2 separate regions of the Homo sapiens genome follow, and region 1 is linked to region 2. Evidence: fine-mapped expression QTL. A gene starts in region 2. The other region holds a variant in brackets. All regions are shown on one strand. Distances are from middle to middle. Region 1 overlaps TFRC (transferrin receptor). Region 2 holds the start of TFRC (transferrin receptor).

Evidence for each region.
Region 1: its variant is fine-mapped to the expression of TFRC in blood mononuclear cells (TOPMed, PIP above 0.99).

Annotation. Positions count from the first base shown.
Region 1 is chr3:196,044,852-196,055,920 of GRCh38, forward strand. TFRC (transferrin receptor) reads right to left here. Exons shown (of 19, transcript NM_001128148.3): 17 at 10,229-10,450; 18 at 8,567-8,707; 19 at 4,433-7,333. The coding sequence ends at 7,091. It also overlaps the pseudogene ARL8BP1. Among named protein-coding and RNA genes, the nearest start is that of TFRC, 32 kb to the right of the region's middle. RefSeq lists an enhancer at 10,654-11,069. The variant T/C (reference allele first, on the strand shown) is at 4,295.
Region 2 is chr3:196,075,460-196,086,227 of GRCh38, forward strand. TFRC (transferrin receptor) reads right to left here and starts at 6,631. Exons shown (of 19, transcript NM_001128148.3): 1 at 6,584-6,631; 2 at 1,605-1,663. The coding sequence starts at 1,640. RefSeq lists an enhancer at 4,883-5,382 and silencers at 6,264-6,563, 6,614-6,953, 10,016-10,188.

The DNA.
Region 1 (11,069 bases), 30 kb before region 2:
GGTTTCAACACGAGGAAAGTAACTAAAGGTCATGTCACAATAAAGATCCAGGACCGGCCGGGCGGTGGCTCACGCTTGTAATCCCAGCACTTTGGGAGGCCGAGGCGGGTGGATCGCCTGAGGTCAGGAGTTCGAGACCAGCCTGGGCAACACGGTGAAAGCCCCATCTCTACTAAAAATACAAAAAATTAGCCGGGCGTGGTAGCGGGTGCCTGTAATCCCAGCTACTCGGAGGCTGAGGGAGAAGAATCGCTTGAACCCGGGAGGCGGAGCCTGCAGTGAGCCGAGATCGCGCCACGTCACTCCAGCCCGTGTGACAGCGACGAGTCAAGGCTATTGTTTACAGGATAGATGCTGCAGATCGTAAGAAGATAGAAGCTTCCCGAAACGAGCTACATAATCTTCAACAAGAGCAAAACTCCAAGTCAAAAACAAAACAAAAAAAAATTGAGACTTGTTTTACCACCCAATGTATTAGTCCATTCTCACATTGCTTTAAAGAACTACCTGAGACTGGGTAATTCATAAAGAAAAGAGGTTTAATTGGCTCATGGTTCCGCCGGCTACACGGGAAGCATGACTGGGGAGGCCTCAGGGACTGCGCCATCATGGCAGAAGGCAGAGGGGAAGCAGGCGCATCCCACACGGCTGGAGAAGGAGGAAGACAGCAAAGGCGCTGCGCACTCTCAAACTACCCGATCTCGTGGGATCTACCATGACAGCAGCAAGGGGGCATTCCGCCCCCGTGATCCAACCACCTCCCACCAGGCCCCCTCCTCCAACACTGGGGATTACGATTTGACCTAAGATTTGGGCAGGGACACAAATCCAAACCGTATCACCCAGTATATGGTCTATCTTGCTGAATATACCACATATACCTAAAAAAAGTATATTTTGCAGTTGTTGAATGTGGTGTTCTACAAATGTCAAGTAGATTGAGGTGGCTGATACAGTGGTTCAAATAATTTGTCCTGATTTTTTTGGTCTAGCTTCTCTATTTACTGCTAAGAAATGGGTGTTAAAATCTATTTTAATGGCAGAATTTTCATTTCTTTTTCATGTATTTTAAGGTGCATACGTATTTATAAGTCTGCTATCTTCCTGAATGGCTCTCTTTACAATTATAAAATATTCCTATCTTTACGGTACTATCTGTTCAAAGTCTATTTAATCTTATATTTATATAACCATTCCAGTCATAGTATGCTAGTGTACATATTGTATTTTTTCCCCTTTCAATTCATCTGTCTTTAAAGTTTCTTATAGGCAGCATATAAATGGGCCTTGATTGTTTTTTAATCATCAGTCTTGATTAGAATGTTAACATGTCAATAATGTAATTATTGATATGGCTGGACTCAGCATGCCACTTCACCAGTTTTTTTGTTTGTTCCTCTTTTGGTTCCTGCCAATTCTTTCCCTTTTGAGGTCACTTCTCCAAGTTTTACTCCCCTCCACTGTTTGCCTACCTTTGTTTACATCTCAGGTTTGGGAGAGTTTTCCCCCCGTCTTACTGAGCTTCTGGCTGTAAGCAGCAGGAGGGATAGGTTGTAGGAGGCTTATGTGGTGACTGTGGAACCAGAGCCCCCATATATGCTTTTAGGAAGATCTGGTATAGAATTCTCATTTATGCACAGACAACTTTGAAAATGTACATAAGAAATCGGTAAATGACCAGGCCCAGTGGCTCACACCTGTAATCCCAGCACTTTGGGAGGCTGAGGCAGGTGTATTACTTCAGTCCAGGAGTTTGAGACCAGCCTGGGTAATAAGGCAAAACCCCATCTCTCAAAAAATACAAAAATTAGCTTAGCTGGGCATGGTGTTGCCTGTCTGTAGTCCCAGCTACTCTCAGGAGGCTTAGGTAGGATAGCTGGAATCCAGGAGGCGGAGGTTGCAGCAAGCTGAAATCATGCCACTGCAATCCAGCCTGGGTGACAAGAGCGAGACCATCTCAAAATAAAAAAAGAAAAATTGGTAATTGTGGAGATTTAGAGGGATGACAACTCTGGAGACTAAGAGGAAAATACTTTTTAATACAGACTTTTCTGCACTTTGACCGTATGTGAATATTTTCAAAAAAGGCATTAAAAATTATACAAAGCTGGCCAGGTGCGGTGGCTCACGCCTTTAATCCCAGCACTTTGGGAAGCCAAGGCGGGCGGATCACCTGAGGTCAGGAGTTCGAGACCAGCCTGGCCAACATGGCGAAACCCCATCTCTACTAAAAATACAAAAATTAGCCGAGCATGGTGGCATGCACCTGTAATCTCAGCTACTGGGGAGGCTGAGGCAGGAGAATCGCTTGAACCTGGAAGGCAGAGGTTGCAGTTAGCTGAGATCACGCCATTGCACTCCAGCCTGGGCAACAAGAATGAGACTCCATTTCAGAAAAAAAAAAAAAAGAAAAGAAAAGAAAATTATACAAAGCTGTCCATTTGGGGTGGATTAAGCATGAGGCAGCTTAAAGGGCAAATGCAGCAAACTGCAAAGGCTTTATTTAACTCAGCACCTAAACCTGTTGACAGCCACAAGGAAGACATTGGTATCTGATATTGAATTCTAGGCAAAGCTGTCTTGCAGATAACCAGGTGTTTTACAAATATTTGTTTAGGACAGCTTCCTAACCCATGACCTTTCACATAGGCAGTTTCTCCCGTAGAATACAGCAGTTTAATAATCATCTTGCTTCTCAAGGGTATGAATGTGGCTAATTTGGACACGGGAAAGCTGGGGCATAGGTGAGGCAATTAGGCTTCCAATTCTAGGGGCCACAATTTTCGTGGCCATACTTAAGAATCCTGGCTGGCACTCATAGCAATGAGATTCAATTGTGTGATGGATTTTTTGGTAACCACACGGTAGAAGGCCAAAATAAGAAAACTCTCAACAATTACGCCTTTTGCTATAGAGCTGGTGTCCACTAACCATGTGGCTACTGAGCACCTGAAATGTGGCTAGCCAAAACTGAGATGTGCATTGCTTGAGGTACAAGGGAGTTTGAAGACACGGTATGGAGCACACCTGTAATCCCAGCCTCTCAGGAGGCTGAGGCACAAGAATTGCTTGAACTTGGGAGGTGGAGGTTGCAGTGAGCTGCGATGGCACCACTACACTCCAGCCTAGGCGATGGGGCGAGACTGTCTCGGGAAAAAAAAAAAAAAGGAGGCAGAGCGTGGTGGTGGCTCACACCTGTAATCACACACTTTGGGAGGCTGAGGTGGGCAGATCACTTGAAGTCAGGAGTTCAAGATCAGCCTGGCCAACATGGTGAAACCCCATCTCTACTAAAAATACAAAAATTAGCCAGGCGTGGTGGCCCACACTTGTAATCCCAGTTGCTCAGGAGGCTGAGGCAGGAGAATCACTTGAACCCAGGAGGTGGGGGTTGCGGGGAGCCGAGATAGCGCCACTGCGCCCCAGCCTGGACGACAGCAAAGATTCTGTCTCAAAAATAAATAAAATTACATATGTGGTATATGGTGACAATATATTGTATATTTAGAAATTGCCAATAGAGGCTGGGCATGGTGGCTCACGCCTGTAATCCCAACACTTTGGGAGGCTGAGGCAGGCGGATCACCTGAGATCAGGAGTTCAAGACTAGCCCGGCCAACATGGTGAAACCCCACGTCTACTAGAAATATGAAAATTAGCTAGGCGTGGTGGCAGACACCTGTAATCCCAGCTACTCGGAGGCTGAGGTAGGAGAACTGCCTGAGGCGGAGGCTGCAGTGGGCTGAGATCGCCCACTTAGAAGACAGCAGCAATCATGTACCTTGGTATTTACCTAAAGAGCTGAAGACCTATGTTCACAGAAAAGATATACACACAGGTGCTTATCAGTTTATTCATAACTGCCAAAACTTAGAAGCAAGATTACTTAGTAAGTAGGTGAGCTAGATAAACTATGGTAACTGCAGACAACAGAATATTGTTCTGTGCTAAAAAGAAATGAGGTATCATGTCATGAAGACATGGAGGAAACAAATGCTATTGCTTAGTGAAAGAGGCCAATCTGAAAAGGCTATATTCTGATTCCAACTGTATGACAGTCTGGAAAAGGTAAAATTATGGATATAGTAAGATCTGTGGTTACCAGGGCCTTATAGAAGAGATGGATGAATGGGCAGAGCACAAGATTTACAGCAATAAAAACTATTCTGTAAGCTACTAGAATGATATTACATATTTGTCAAAAACCGTAGAACAAACCCTAACGTAAACAGTAGACTAATGATGCTGACGGTGCTAATGGTGCACCCGTGTAGGCTGCCCATTGTAACAAATA[T/C]GCCGCTCTGGCGCAAGCTGTTGACCGTCATGGAGGATGTGTAAGTGGCAGAAACAGTGGATGTGTGGGAATTCTGTTTAATTTTGCTATGAGCCTAAAACTGCTCTTTTTAAAAAATTTATCTAAAGAAATGACAACTCAGTGTTTAAGTATTTTATTAAATCAGACAAGGAATCTCCACACTGTTGCACATAACAGCTTTTATACAATGATAAGGACATATCATTTGTTTACAAAGAAAGTCTAAAATTTCAAGAACATTCAAAGAGCTAACACAGTAAAGGTCATGCAAGTTCTAGAATAGTGAATCATGACAGAACTCATTCATTTTATCCTTTACCTCCAAAAGGCCCATCTCCTTAACGAGAAGACATCTCAAGACCAGGAGCTTGTCACTAGTCTGATATTTCATTCAGGAATATTGAGCCTGTTAGCACGTACTGGCTTGATAGGAAGTAACTCAACCCTAACTGTAGAAAAGGGTTTTCTGAAGAGACTCACTGCTGCAAAATGCATGCCCTGTATTCATATTGTGTTATACGATGAACATGCCACATGCTTTCATTTAAGTACGTGTGCGTAACACCCGAACCAGGAATCTCAGCTATGACCTTTTCACTTAGCTACGCTAAATGTCAGTCCAAGATAAAAGAGGAGATTAAAGATAAAACTGAAGATTAAAGAGACTGTGAGTAGTGACACATTCAAGTGAGGCTGTAAATCTAGGTAAGTGACACTAAGAACCTGAAGAGACCCTATGAACTTTTCCCTAGGAGGCCGTTTCCAACTGCCCTATGACAAACAGCTGATCATCACGTTTATAATGATGGTTCACTCACGGAGCTTCGAACTTATTCATACCTACATTTAATTGATCACCACGAATGGGTAGGCAGACGTGTCAGACCTTCAGGGGACTCTCCTTCCCCACAGCCCCCAAACCTTCTATACAAAGTCCCTCTGCTTTAAGTCAAAAGGTCAATTCTGGATTAAAACTTGTCCGCACTAAGTTTATAGGAGGTAACATGCAAATAATGTGATAAAGTTAAAATGACTTGTCAATAGCAAACATTATAAATGTATGCTACTATCTCATTAAGTAGAGGACCTGGAGAAACCATAAAGGTAACAAAAACCCAAGCTAAATTTCAAATTTTGTAGTAATTTCATTTTACAGTGGTTGAATTTACCCACCCAATGCTTAATGACCACAAAATGTTTCTGCAACTAAAACTAAAAGATAGGGAATTATAGGAGTTGGGATACATGTTAGATACTAACGATCTTCAAGCTTTGAAGATGTCATTGCATGAAGAAAATTATGGGAAACACTGTTCCCGATAATTACTTACACCCTTAGTGTAACATATGGAGATCACTGTCTCCGATACAGACACTGTGGTAGGTAAAAACTACCTTGTTCTTTATACATTATGGAAGACACTGCTCCCGATAATGTGTTAGGATTGTGACAAAGGTACTGGAAATTTTGCAAAATGGGAATTAGAGTTACACCTTGGATAAACTGAGCTATAAAATTTTGCAGGAGTACTACCACAGCCTTTAAGTGACATTGATTTATAACTTGGTCACAATTCACTGCATTTAGGAAAACCAGCATTCTTATCTGGTCAGTGCTCGCTTCTTAGCAACCCCTAATTAAATTTAATTCATCTCTAAATCTTAGCTTCAACTTTATTCAATTACATTTGGCTGACGGCTGTTTTCTAAAACCCTTAAGTGTTGACCATAAATGCAAAACTTCCAGTATCTGTTGGGTTTTATTAGCAGATGCTGCTTTTATTTAAAAAAAACCGACAGTATAACTGTCATAATTATGGAAGGCACTGCTTCCGATAATTATATTCTATTAAAAAAACACCATTTATAGTGAACTCTGTCACTGATAAATAAACAATAAATATCTCAGTGCCAAAAGGACAGAAAGCTCTCCCCTAAGATTAACACTTTGGCCAAAATTTGGCAGCATATTATTCTTTAAAGTCTGACAAACTGAGTCTGCAACTAAACACCTGAAACTGGTTCTCTTTCAATGTGCTTTGGAAGAAACAAAAATAACAAAGAACTAAATGGAGGCTTATGGGGGAAGGGACAGAGGAAAAGAAAATATACTAAGTCTTTGGCTTCTGGTCCCCTCTTTTCATAAATGACACTGAGGTTAACATATTAAGGCCTTATTCCTGCAATCAACAGTTGAACCTCATTTTATCCAGCAGAAGGACCTCCATTTCAGACCTCATTGGCAAGAAAACAAGCCCATCTCTTCTGAAAGTTAACTGTTTCTTTCAGGAATGAGGAAACCAGCTACATTCCTTATGGAAAGGCTTAGATCTCATTTGGAGAAGGTCTTTCAACCTGGTATCTCCTATTTAGCATCAAATGAAGTTGGAGGATCACTCAAAGTAAGCGACCACTTACAACCTTCAGCAGAGACCAGCCCTTAGGATTCAGAGAGATCATTCACATAACTGGTTTCTGACATTTTCATTAACAACAACAGGAAAGAGGCAGTTCCCATTACAAAGCACTTAAAATTCTAGAGATAGGGGAATATTCCATCATGGACATTTTTTAAGTGGTTATTCACTTTAACTTGAAGTACAGGTTATCTACCCTGTATTAAAAGCTGCTGCCTAAAGACATCTAGTAGTACCAAGATGATGGGATGGAATTTTAACATCAGGTTTTGTAGCCCTACTGAAAATTTAGCACGATCAGCACAAGTCTAGAAACCAGACTACCCTGCTGTTCTCATGGAAGCTATGGGTATCACATTTAAAACTCATTGTCAATGTCCCAAACGTCACCAGAGAGGGCATTTGCAGCTCCCTGAATAGTCCAAGTAGCTAGAGCCAACTGGTTTCTGAACAGCGTTTCATTAAAAGCACCGTTATTTTGTTTACGCAGTTTCAAGTTCTCCAGTAAAGCTGGCAGCGTGTGAGAGCCGGAGCCCCAGAAGACATGTCGGAAAGGAGACTCTTTTGGAGATACGTAGGGAGAGAGGAAGTGATACTCCACCTACGAAAACAACACACAAGGCAATTTACACAGCCCTGTGACTTTTGTAGTAAAACAACAGTTCACTTCAAATGTAAAATGTCCCAAATTTAAGAATGCCGATCAGACTTTTTTTTTTTTTTTTTTTTTTTGACACAGAGTTTCGCTCTTGTTGCCCAGACTGGAGTGCAACAGCGCTATCTCGGCTCACTGGTACCCTCCACCTCCCGAGTTCAAGCAATTCATGCTGGGATTACAGGTGTGAGCCACCGTGCCCGGCTTTTTGTTGTTGTTGAGACAGAGTTTCGCTCTTGTTGCCCAGGCTGGAGTACAATGGCGCGATCTCAGCTCACTGCAACCTCCACCTCCCGGGTTCAAGTAATTCTCCTGCCTCAGCCTCCTGAGCAGCTGGAATTACAGGCATGCACCACCACGCCCAGCTAATTTTTGTATTTTTAGTAGAGATGGGGTTTCTCCATGTTGGTCAGGCTGGTCTTGAACTCCTGACCTCAGGTGATCCGCTTGCCTCGGCCTCCCAAAGTACTGGAATTACAGGCATGAGCCACTGTACCCAGCCAGCTGATCAGACTTTCTATAGCAGAGTAAGGAAAAAAGAATGCTGAGAACCAGGCTAATGCTAATCTTCTAAGGTTAAAATTCTAAAGGAGGCTAGGCACAGCGGCTCACGCTTGTAATACCAGCACTTTGGGAGGCCAAGGCAGGTGGATCACTTGAGGTTGGGAGTTCGAGACCGGCCTGGCTAACATGGTGAAACTCCGTTTCTACTAAAAATACAAAAAATGAGCCGGGCGTGGTGTTGGGCACCTGTAATCACAGCAACTCGGGAGGCTAAGGCAGGAGAATCACTTGAACCTGGGAGGTGGAGGGTGCAGTGAGCCGAGACCGTGCCATTGCACTCCAGCTTGGGCAACAACAGTGAAACTCTGTCTCAAAAAAAAAAAAAATTTTTTTAAAGGAAACTGATTCATTTTACAAAGGAAAACTTTAAATGTGTTCAGATTCTTTTCCCCATTGGAGCATACATGGAAGTTTTACAGCAAGTCTCTTCCAAAAAGACTAGGTTTGACTAAGTTCTGAATTAGACAGCAGAAACAGAAAATGACAGCTAAACCATTAATGCTCCCTTCTTAAAGGAATTCTAGACTCCTAGAGTTTGTCCACTTTGCAGAAGTGTAAGATTTATCGGTTATTTTACACATACTTTAGTTCCTCCTTTCCCAAAAGTTCACTTACTCTCATGACACGATCATTGAGTTTCTTCATGACAAATCTGTCTGTTTTCTCAGCATTCCCGAAATCTGTTGTTAGTCTGGAAGTAGCACGGAAGAAGTCTCCACGAGCAGAATACAGCCACTGTAAACTCAGGCCCATTTCCTGAAACAGACATTATTCGCTATGAGAAGTTTTATTTCTAAGGACATTCTTTTGTATGCCTTTCTAATTTAACGTGCGTTAAGTAAGATTCTGATAAAAGGAACTCGCAGATAAGCTCAAGACTCCGAAAGCACCTTGCACAGGGGTTCCAAGCTCTATGGACTGTGATATACACTCATATTTGAGCCCAGCATGTAAGAAAACCATTCTCATTAAGAAATTGAACATAATTATATAATCCTATGTACTATATTGTTTCCAGTTCAATTCTCCTTTTGGGGGAAAATGTCCCTATAGGGGAAAACATTTTGGTTCAAGGTACTTCAGGATTTAGTTATTTCCACCTGGTAAGTTCCATTTTCAACAGTTACAATTAGTTTCAAGAAAGACATAAGATGCCGGGCGTGGTGGCTCATGCCTGTGATCCCAGCACTTTGGGAGGCCGAGGTGGGTGGATCACCTGAGGTCAGGAGTTCAAGACCAGCCTGGCCAACATGGTAAAACCCCGGCTCTACTAAAAATACAAAAAATTAGCCGGGCGTGGTGGCCGGCACCTGTAGTCCCAGCTACTCGGGAGGCTTAGGCAGGAGAATGGCGTGAACCCGGGAGGCGCATCTTACAGTGAGCCGAGATCTCGCCACTGCACTTCAGCCTGGCCAACATGGTAAAACCCCGGCTTCTACTAAAAACACAAAAACTATCTGGGCATGGTGGCACACGCCTGTAATCCCAGCTACCTGGGGAGCCGAGGCAGGAGAATCGCTTAAAGCCGGGAGGTGGAGGTTGCAGTGAGCCGAGATCATGTCATTGCATTCCAGCCTGGGGGACAAGAGCGAGACTTCATCTCTCAAAAAAAATAAAATAAAAATAAAAATAAAAAAGATATAAAAAGATTCGGTTGTCAGTGATTTACTTCAATTAAGAGATCTGTTAAAAATCAACTCCTAGTACCATAAAACAATCTGGAAGCTACTTTAATATTAGTTTTATTAATTTATTTAGAGATGGGATTTTGCTATGTTGCCTGGGCTGGACTCCAGCAATCCTCCTGCCTCAGCAGAAGTAGCTGGGGCTACGGGTATGCACCACCTCACCCTGCTTATCAGTTTCGTTTAATAGAATATTTGACTTTTAGATGCGCAGATCACTACGAGATGGAATCCTGCTAGCTGTGCTGTCTTTCCATCCGGGTCACGCCCGAGAGGCACACAGCCCAACTCCTTGCTGAGATCTTCATATTCCGTGTCCTACTGACGGGCTGCCTGGGAGACATGAGTGACAGAAAACCTGACACTGCTCTGGATTCTGAAACACCTGCTGAGCTCTGTCCTAGGTCTCTAATCCACAGCCTCCCGACTTCTCTCAAACAAGTTACCAATTCTACATACAATTATACCTCAGTTCACTTTAAAATGTACTATGGCTACAATCACCCTTCCAACAGGAACACACAGGAACACATCACATTTCAAAATACTTGACATTCAGCAAAATAAAAACGTAATTGGAATCAGTGCTCACCTTTATGTCTGCTCTGTATTGGTTCAGATCCCTCACAAATGAAAGCAGTTGGCTGTTGTACCTCTCATAGTCCAGGTTCAATTCAACATCATGGGTTAGTTTAATCACGAACTGACCAGCGACCTCTGCAGCTGCTCGTGCCACTTTGTTCAACTCAGGAATCCTCTCAATCAGTTCCTTATAGGTGTCCATGGTGGTACCCAAATAAGGATAATCTGTGTCCTGCAAGACAACGCGAGGCTATGGTACTCACGTGAGTTCTAAGAGCAAGAGCCTCACATTCTGGCTTCGCCATCGAGGTAACAGTGACGACAGTTCCACCCTTGCTTCTAACATATTCCTACCGCAATTTACCCCAATTCTATCTCATTATCTGCTGCTTTAAGTACATTCTTGCTACTTCTCTCAAGCTAACCTACTCCTAGAGTGACTACTTTCTTCCAGGTTCTACAGAATCCCTGTTCTATCGTATCATATGCCCTGAATAGACTTCTAGCCAAATTCCTTAAGGCTGTATGTTTTTCTCTCTGGGAAGTTTGGGCCTTTATCAATGAAAAAAGAGAAGATACATGAAACATACCTTGAGACGAGGTCTCTCTGTCACCCAGGCTAGAGTGCAGTGATGCAATCACGACTCCCCACAGCCTTGAGACAAGGTCTCTCTGTCACCCAGGCTAGAGTGCAGCAATGCAATCATGACTCCCCGCAGCCTTGAGACAAGGTCTCTGTCACCCAGGCTAGAGTGCAGCGATGCAATCATGACTCCCTGCAGCCTTGAGACGAGGTCTCTCTCTGTCACCCAGGCTGGAGTGCAGTGATGCAATCATGGCTCCCTCTAGCC
Region 2 (10,768 bases):
CTATATATTCCTTAGGGTGTTCTCCTTTCAAACCAACATTCTTCCCTGGGCCCAGTCAAGGGCTAGTTCACACTGGTCTTCTCAGTCAGTCTCTCCCTTTTTGTAAATTTTTTTTTTTTTTTGAGACAAGGTCTCCCTCTCTCTCCCAGGATGGAGTACAGTGGTGTGATCACAGCTCACTGCAGCCTCAAAATCCTGGGCTCTACTGATTCCCCCACCTCAGCCTCCTGAGTAGCTGGGACTAGGGGCACAAATCAGTTCAGGATACTATGCAGTAACCCAGACCATGATGTTGGTGGGAGCAAGGGAGCAAGAATAAAACAAAGTTATAAATAAGCAGAAATTCTGACTAAGCATAAGATAGAAGACAGAAAAGAGAGAATAGACCAGACACAGTGGCTCATGCCTGTAATCCCAGCACTCTGGGGGGGGCCGAGGCACACAGATCATTTATGGTCAGAAGTTTGAGACAAGCCTGACCAACATGGTGAAATCCCCTCTCACTAAAAATTCAAAAAAAAAAAAACCACTAGCTGGGCATGGTGTCGCACGCCTGTAATCTCAGCCACCCAGGAGGCTGAGGCAGGAGAATCGCTTGAACTCAGGAGGCGGAGGTTACAGTGAGCTAAGATTGCACACTGCATTCCAACCTGGGCAACAGAGCCCAGGCTGAGACTCCATCTCAAAAAATAAAATAAAAATAAATAAATAAATAAATACAAATAAGAGAGAATTGAGGTCTAGACAGAGTGTTAAGAGTTAGGCTCCTTCTCGTCATGGCCTGGATGGCTGTTTTTTTTGTATGTTCTTTCAGCTTTCACTCATACTGTCTACTCAATGTTTCTTAAAATTTCATTTTTTTTTTAATAGAGATGGGCTTGCTATGTTGCCCAGGCAAGTCTCAAACTCCTCAAGTGATCCTCCTGCCTCACCTCCCAAACTGCTGGGATTGCGGGAGTGAGCCACCACACTTGGCCTCATTCAGCCTTTGCTTTTTTTTTTTTTTTTGAGACGGAGTCTCACTCTGTTGCCCAGGCTGGAGTGCAATGGCGTGATCTCAGCTCATTGCAACCTCCGCCTCCCGGGTTCAAGCAATTCTCCTGCCTCAGCCTCCCAAGTAGCTGGGACTACAGGCATGCGCCATGACACTCAGCTAATTTTTTTTTTTTTTGTATTTTTAGTAGAGACCGAGTTTCACCATGTTGGTCAGGCTGGTCTTGAACTCCTGACCACAGGTGATCCACCCACCTCAGCCTCCCAAAGTGCTGGGATTACAGGCGTGAGCCACAGCGCCCCGCAAGCCTTTGCTTTTTACTTCTCCTACTAAAACATTTTGATCAGGGCTTTAATTCGTCTTATCTACTAAGCTGTCCCCGTCTACCACACCCAGAACCACTCTGAGAATTCTTCCAAGACTTTCCATAATTAACCCTACTGAAGGCTGAACTCTTTGTGAGATCAGTTATGCCTCAAGACTACCAATTCAAATGTAAATGAATACCTGATAATAGATTGGGGTTATTATTTCATGCTTACTCAGTTAAAGTCATGCTTGTATATTTCACATTCTTGCAGACACAGAAATACAACTGAAAATATCTTACCAAGTTAGAGAATGCTGATCTAGCTTGATCCATCATTCTGAACTGCCACACAGAAGAACCTAGGTATCAGAATAGAGAATTATTGAGAAAGATACTACTGTATCAGATTAGTGAGCTTTCTATTACCAGGCTAAATGATACATTAAATTTTTAAAATACATTATCACTTTTCTAGAAAAGGTATTTAACCATAGTTTACATGACAACTAAATTAAGTGGGATCCTTTTTAAAGTTTGTTATATACATAATTCTTTTTTTTTCTTTTTGTAGAGACAAGGTCACCCTATGTTGCCCAGGCTGGTCTTGAACTCCTGGCCTCAAACAATCCTCCCACCTTGGCCTCCCAAAGTGCTGCAATTATAAGTACGAACCACTATGTTCTGAGTAGACAAAAGTGACACATACTGCTGGGCGGGGTGGCTCACACCTGTAATCCTAGCACTTTGGGAGGCTGAGATGGGTGGATCACCTGAGGTCAGGAGTTCAAGACCAGCCTGGCCAACATGGAGAAACCCTGTCTCTACTAAAAATACAAAAATTAGCCGGACGTGGTGGTGGGCGCCTGTAATCCCAGCCACTCGGGAGCCTGAGGCAGGAGAATGGCGTGAACCCAGGAGGTGGAGCTTGCAGTGAGCCAAGATCGCGCCACTGCACTCCAGCCTGGAAAACAAGAGCAAAACTCTGTCTCAAAAAAAAAAGAAAGTGACACATACAAAAAGACAAAATTAAGACTAAGGCAGACAAGACCAGTTATGCTACAAATACCACAAACCATCTCCAATGGGAAGGGGAAGAAATACTGATCCTGACTGAATGAATAGTTCCTACAAGTGATTCGATCTTTGACACAAGAAGAAACATGAAACACAGATTACGCTGTTTTACAGATGAAGAGGCCAGTTATTAGAGAAACTAAGTGGCCTGTTCAAGGCTGAAAATTGATAATCTAAGCGAAGTTAAATGGGTTACTGGGTTATAGAAATTGTGTTATCATCTCTGGAAATTTAAGACATTAACCTTAACTTTTGTCAAAGCAAAATACATCTCTGTAATCAAAGTCCTAAGTTAAGTTAAAGGCCTTAACTGAAATCTGAATTTTCCAGTTAATTTGGTTTGAGGGCATCTAGATACTTGAAAATGACATTATCCTGAGATTTGCAAAATGGACATTTATTGGATACCATTTTAAAGCTTTTCCTATATACGAGTACACTTAGGGCATATTAAACACACACGGCACAAAGCAAGCTGTGAGGTATACGCAAATTGTAAAGCAAAGGGTATTATAACTGGCATTAAGAAAAAGCTTTCTGGCCAGGCACGGTGGCTCATGCCTGTAATCCCAACACTTTGGGAGGCCGAGGCAGGTGGATCACGAGGTCAGGAGTTTGAGACCAGCCTGGCCAAGGTGGTGAAACCCCATCTCTACTAAAAATACAAAAATTAGATGGGCGTGGTGGTGGGCACCTGTAATCCCAGCTACTGGGGAGGCTGAGGCAGGAGAATCGCTTGAACCCGGGAGGTGGAGGTTGCAGTGAGCCGAGATGGCACCACTGCACTCCAGCCTGGGTGACGGAGTGAAACTCCATCTCAAAAAAATAATAAAAAAGAAAAAGAAAAAGCTCTAAAACCTATTACAAAAAATTCTTTTTAAATTCAAGCTTTAAAAACCAGTGTCCATATGCAATAGACCATATTCTTAGAAGCATAATCTTTTTTTTTTTCTTGAGACAGAGTTTCGGTCTTGTTGCCTAGGCTGGAGTGCAATGGCAGGATCTCGGCTCACTGCAACCTCCCCCTCCCGGGTTCAAGCCATTTTCCCACCTCAGACTCCGAGTAGCTGGGATTACAGGTGCCCACCACCATGCCCAGCTAATTTTTGTATTTTTAGTAGAGACGGGATTTTACCACGTTGGCCAGGCTGGTCTGGAACTTCTGACCTAGGGTGATCCACCCACCTGGCCTCCCAAAGTGCTAAGATTAGTTACTTGATAAGAACATCCCAAGGAAATCGAAGGCGTGAGCCACTGCGCCCAGCCAGAAGCACAATCTTTTGCCCCTTCTGTTACAAAAAGCTTATCACTACCACTCCACCAGAACAGTAAGGACCCAATCATTAGAGCCAGAACTGGAAGGCCCCACCCTGAACCAATTTTAATCATCCTTTTCTAGGAAAAAACATCTTGCAAGTTTTAACACTCATCTGAACCATCATTCCTCAAGTTTTCTTGTTTTAAATTAATTTTAAGAACACAAAGCGATGGCCGGGCATGGTGGCTCACGCCTGTAATCCCAGCAACACTTTGGGAGGCCGAGGCGAGCAGATCACCTGAGGTTGAGAGTTTGAGACTAGCCTGACCAAACATGGAGAAATCCCATCTCTACCAAAAAAATACAAAATTAGCCGGGCATGGTGGCGCATGCCTGTAATCCCAGCTACTGGGGAGGCTGAGGCAGGAGAATCACTTGAACCTGGGGGAGGTGGAGGTTGCAGGGAGCCGAGATCACACCATTGCACTACAGCCTGGGCAACAAGCGTGAAACTCTGTCAAAAATAAATAAATAAATAATAATCTAAGCTACTTGTGTTATCTTTGGTGTTCTCAATGGTGACTGAAAACAACAATTCAATTTCTCACATTAATAATGAAGCTCAGGTAGGCAAAACGTAGCCCCACGTTTTGAACCATGAAATGGAACACATTCACTGCCTAACAACTTCACTACCCTCTATTTTCTCCAAAATCAGACAGAATCCAGCCCCTGTTTTTACCCACCAACATTCTTCTCTGTTCCTTGAGGTCCTCCTCATTTCTTCCAGGCTCAGCTCAAGGCTTCATCTCTATGAAGCCTTCTCTGACTGACTTCCCTATCCTGTAATAACTGGTATTGAACTACCTGATAATGAGTAAAAATATTGTCTTTAACAGTACTGGGGCATGCCTGATGCATGAGATTCCAAATGATATGAAAAATATAATGAAAACATTGGACCAGGAATCTTTTCCCGTCCCCATCACTCTTCTGGTTTAGTAGGGAGTTTTTTTGTTGTTGTTTTTGAGATGGCATCTCGCTGTCGCGCAGGCTGGAGTGCAGTAGCACGATCTCAGCTCACTACAACCTCTGCCTCCCAGGTTAAAGCGACTCTCGAGCCTCAGCCTCCTGAGTGGCTGGGATTACAGGTGTGCACCACCATGCCCAGCTAATTTTTGTATTTTTCGTAGAGACGGGGTTTCACCATGTTGGCCAGGCTAGTCTCGAACTCCTCACCACAAGTGATCCACCTGCCTCGGCCTCCCAAAGTGCTGGAATTACAGACGTGAGCCACCATGCCCGGCTAATTTTTGTGTTTTTAGTAGAGACAGGATTTCACCATGTTAGTCAGACTGGACTCGAACTCCTGACCTTAGGTGATCCGCCTGCCTTGGCCTCCCAAAGTGCTGGGATTACAGGCGGGAGCCAATGCGCCCAGCCGAGGGTCATTTTTAACTAGCATTGTGATCGATTCAGGTTTAGCTGGGAATCTTGCTCCATGACATTTAAATACATTATCAGAGGCAAGTAACTGCCTCGCCTTAGGGCGGAGTTAGCCAAACTGCTGTCTATCTAACAATCTTCAACACAGGCTAGGTTTACAGCCACCATTACTTGATAAGAACATCCAAAGGAAATTGAAGGATGCTATGCTATATATAACCTTGCAAAATCGATGACAAAAATTATCTTAACTCTGAGTTTTCTTGAGAAGCATATTGTAACCCAAAATTCAGGGCCGGGGGGCGGGGGGAACCAGCAGGGTCCACAAGTACTCTAGACAGCCTAACCTTAATTTTCACAGTAAGCTTAGCATATAAGCATGGGGTAGCCAAATACAATTTCCTACTTTAATCCTCTTATCAACGGGGAAGAAAATGGAAAAAGCTGCAGAATCCAGTCCCCCGGGTAAGTGAGGTCTCTACAAGCAGTAAGCAGAGGGAAAGCGTTATCCGAAAAGAGCCGAATCAGAATGTATTTTCTTACCCACCCTCCCAACCTTAAAAGAACTGTCCAGCAGAATGTGACACAATCGGCCTCTCCGGCGCCCATCAATCCAGCACAGCCCTCTGACCACACCGCTAATCTCCAAGTATCTTTCACAAATAAGTCACTCCTATGGCTCCCGTCTTGTAGTGAGAACTGCTAGCAATATTCTTAATGTGAACACCTGCGGCGTTCAGTCGGATTCTGCCTTGAGAAAACAGAATCCACACACAAGGCGAACAGGCAGAGCATGGCAAGATCAGGTTGTACCAGAGCCGAAGGGTAAGTTTACAGAAACCCGTATCTAATTAATGCCTGTAACACGCTAGTAACCGAATCGGGGACAGCTTTGTCCCTTTCCGCAGTGAGAACGGGGCCCGCCCGGAGCCCGGGGAACCGAAGGTTTAGGAGCCCAAGGTCACCCACGAATCCCAGCCGTTCCCTGGGGCGACTTCCTGGAGCAGCCACGTGTTCCCCCGGCGCCGCACGCCGCGCAGCTGCACCTTGGCTGCGCCCGCGCTCCCGGACCCGCAGCCCGGAGCCGGCGCACTAGGGCCTGCGGCCTTCAAGGGCGAGGACCCGAAGTCCCCGGGGCTGAGAGCGACAGTGGGGGTACACCTGGTCTCGTCATTCGTCGCTCTGTGACCGAGGAGGCGGGCAAGAAGGCAGAGAGAAGGGAAGGGACGAGAGGCGAAGGGACGAGAGGCGCAGGGACGCCTCTGCGCACAGCCGCCGACCCCGTGTACCTGCAGCCGCTCGAGGCGCCGCCACAGCCCCTTCCCCACAGGCTCGCGGCCCCGCTCCATCCCGGCCGCCCCGCCTGGGGCCGCGACCGCTTTCCCGCTCCCCGTGCGGCTCCCTATGGCTGCTGGACAGCACCGGAGCGGCCGCTCCAGCCAGCCCCGCAGGATGAAGGGAGGACACGAGGGTCGGTGTAGTTCTAGAAGCCCGCACTCACACTAGCGCGTCCTCCGTCCCGAGCCGCCACCCGATATCCCGACGCTCTGAGGGGATGGCGGCCCCTAACCGGCGGTTTATAGCCTGGCCCCGCCCCCGGCCCCCAGGGGGGCTGTGCGTCACTTCCTGAGGCACGTACGCTCGCGAGGTGCTCTGACAGATCGCCCGGGGGGCGGGGATGCGCGCGCAGCGGGCGGGGCCCTATGCGGAGGGCGCTGCGGGCGAGGCGAAGGCCAAGGGAAAAGGCGCCAAGGCAGCAGGTGCCCCGAGGAGCCGCGCGATGGGCGCACTGGCCTCTGCCTCGGCGCCTTCCTCCACCCTGGTAGCCTGGCAGCCTCCGCCTGACCTTGACCAACCTCCAGTCCCTGCAGTGCTAGGTCCAATCTGTTGGCGTTGACGCTTAAATGTTGGATATTGCACTGCGGCAGTGCCTTGAAATGTACGTGCAGGATGGAATGTTAGGTAACTATTAAAGCCACTCTTGTGAAGATGTATTTTGCAGCCTCAGAAATACAAAAAGGAAAAGAAAAGCAAAATGCAAATTTTTATTCAGAATGTATACAAGCTGCACTTTAACCAAGACTAGCGGAGTGCTTTGCGTAATGTTTAATGCATGAGGGAATAAAAGGGAAAATAGAAACAAGTGACTTAATAGGGTGATAGGATTGTAGATTAACTTTCGTTTTCATTGCCATCGCTGTTATTGGATTGTGCAATGAATAACAAATAAATAAAATTCAATTCTTGTCACTGTTTAAACTCTTTCCAAACAATCACACCCTCTCCCTCCCTCTGGTCAGTAACCAGCAGGCCAGGGAGGTAGTAGCTACAATGCAAGAAAGCAACCCATACCTTAAAAAGCATTGCACATAAACTGACCTTCAGGCCCGTAGGGACACAGAACAGCCCTTTAAGAAGCAAATCCGTTTCTGGGCCTTGGGCTTTTACTCTTCCCTTTATTTCTTCTGCTCTAAGATAGAGAAAGTACTTGGGATTCTCACCGCCTTTCTCTTTACTCCCATTCTCTAAAATCTCTCTCCCCAAAGAGAAGTGTTTAAAAGTCATATGAGTTGCCAGGCGCGGTGGCTCACGCCTGCAATCCTAACACTTTGGGAGGCCGAGGTGAGCGGATCACGAGGTCTGGAGTTCGAGACCAGCCTGACCAATATGGTGAAACCCCATCTCTACTAAAAAAATTTCAAAAAAAATTAGCCAGGCATAGTGGCACGCGCCTGTAATCCCAGCTACTCAGGAGGCTGAGGCAGAAGAATCGCTTGAACCCAAGAGGCGGAGGTTGCAGTGAGCCAAGATCGCGCCATTGCACTCCAACCTGGGCGACAGAGCAAGATTCCATCTCAAAAAAAAAAAAAAGTCATATGAGCAGGAGCATTGCTGCACCTTTAATGATCTAATCAGGAAAAGGTTAAGGATGCACATCCACAGAGGGCCTACCTTAACATTCAGACACCAGGCCTGCTCCCCTGTGGTGTTCCTTCTTTATTTCTTTAATTATTAATTTTATTTATTTTTATTATTTTTACTTTTAAGACAGTGTCTTGCTCTGTCACCCTGGCTGGAGTACAGTGGCATGATCTCGGGCTCACTGCAACCTCTGCCTCCGGATTCAAGCGATTCTCCTGCCTCAGCCTCCCAAGTAGCTGGGACTACAGGTGTGTGCCACCATGCCAGGCTAATTTTTGTATTTTGAGGAGTGACGGGATTTTATCATGTTGGCCAGGCTTGTCTCGAATTCCTGACCTCAGGTGATCTGCCCACCTTGGCCTCCTAAAATGTTGGGATAACAGGCATGAGCCACCATGCCCAGCCTATTTATTTTTTATTTTTAATTTGACGCAGGGTTTGCTATGTAGCCCAGACTAGTCTTGAACTCCTGGGCTCAAACAATCCTCCTGCCTCCGGTCTCCCAAAGTGCTGGGATTATAGGCATGAGCTAACATGCCTGGCTTTCTGCCTTTCCTTGACTGAAGTATCTTTTAAAAAGAAACAAACAATGCTGGTATTTGCAGGTGAAAATCTTATAGCCTCATGGAGGACATAGGTTTAGGTGGCCAGATGCGATGGCTAATCCCTGTAATCCCAACACTTTGGGAGACTGAGGCAGGTGGATCTTCTGAGGTCAGGAGTTCAAGACCAGCCTGGCCAGCATGATAAAACCCCATCACAACTAAAAATACAAAATTTAGTCTGGCGTGGTGGCGCACACCTGTAGTCCCAGCTACTCCAGAGGCTGAGGCAGGAGAATCGTTTGAACCCGGGAGGGGGGTGGCTGCAGTGAGCTGAGATCACACCACTGCCCTTCAGCCTGGGCAGCAGAGCAAGACTCTGTCTCAAAAAAAAAAAAAAAAAAGAAAGAAAGAAAGAAAAGAAAAGAAAGAAAAATATGTTTAGGAGACATTTAGAGGCCAGGACCATTTGGACATGAAAATTCAAATCTCAAAAATTTATATTCACTAAAATAAAACCATAAACGTGACACTAAAGAGGCTATCAATTATATTTTTATTTTTATGCTGTTATTAGTATTAATAGACACTGCAATTAAAGTCCACTTATTAACACTTTTACTATTTATTTATTTATTTTTAAACAGTCTTACTCTGTCACCCAGGCTGGAGTGCAGTGGCGCCATCTCGGCTCAATGCAACCTCCACCTGGGTTCAAGCGATTCTCCTGCCTCAGCCTCCCGAGTAGCTGGGATTACAGGCACGTGCCACCACGCATGGCTAATTTTTTGTATTTTTAATAGAGACGGGGTTTCTCCATGTTGGCCAGGCTGGTCGTGAACTCCTGCCCTCATGATCTGCCTGCCTTGGCCTCCCAAAGTGCTGGGATTACAGGCGTGAGCCACCGAGCCTGGCCAAATTATTCGAAATTATTATTGGAAATTATTTAATTTCCAACCCTCCACAAACTATTCCATGAGGCTTACCTCATCCTGGAACTAAAACTCTTGCAGTTCTTCTGCATCGTACACAGAAATACGAGAAGTTTCATAAAGGGAAGGAGGTTGGCAAGGAAAAAGATACCATGAGCTGTGGGGAAAAGAAAAGAGCACAAAGCCTGGAGGGCCAAGAAGCTGGAGTTCTCAACTTTCCTGAGCCTGGGTTGTACCAGCTCTAAAATGGGAATAAAGGCTGGGCACGGTGGCTCACACGTCTAATCTCAGCACTTTGGGAGGCTGAGGCGGGCGTATCATTTGAGGTCAAGAGTTCGAGACCAGCCTAACCAATGTGGTGAAACCCCATCTCTACTGAAAATACGAAAATTAGCCGGGTGTGGTGGCAGGCACCTGTAATCCCAGCTACTCAGTAGGCTGAGGCAGGAGAATCGCTTGAACCCGGGAGGCAGAGGGTGCAGTGAGCTGAGATTGTGCCACTGCACTCCAGGCTGAGAGACACAGCAAGACTCCTTCTCAAAAAATAAAATGGGAATAAAAATACCTCATTCCAAAAATACCTCTTTTAGGGTCTAGAAGACCCTAAAAGCAATGACTGGCACATCATACACTGTTGGTCAGCATGGTTGAATCAGAGTCCTCGTGGGGCGGAGTGGGGTCAGGTAGGAACGTGACGTGGAAGATGTCTGCAGACTGGGATGGATGTGGGCTCATGAAGAGGAAGGATGAAGGCATTTCAGCAGAGGAGAACCGGCCACCTGAAGGCTCTGTAGTGAGAAGGAGCCTGTGGTGTGTGTTAAAATTCCTAAGGAGATGTCTGACAGCTAATTCAGGGGAATTACTGCTGGAAACAACAGTGCAGGATGATTAACGGCAAAATTCTGCCTCCCTCTCTTTTTTCTTCACCAAGAGATGAAAGCAGAAGTCTTGCTTTTTGGTGAGAGAGAACTGGCAGGAAAAGCAAACCAGATAAGCCACTTACCTAGTGAAAGAGCCCCAGCTGGCAGGGCATGGAGGCTCACGCCTGTAATCCCAGCACTTTGGGAGGCAGAGGCAGGAGGATCACTTGAGGTCAGGAGTTCGAGACCAGCCTGGCCAACATGACAAGACACTGTCTCTACTAAAAATACAAAAATTAGCCAGGCGTGGTTTTGTGTGCCCATAATCTCAGCTACTTAGGAGGCTGAGGCAGGAGAATCGTTTGAACCTGGGAGGCGGAGGTTGCAGTAAGCTGAGGCTGGGCCACTGCACTCCAGTCTGGGTGACAAA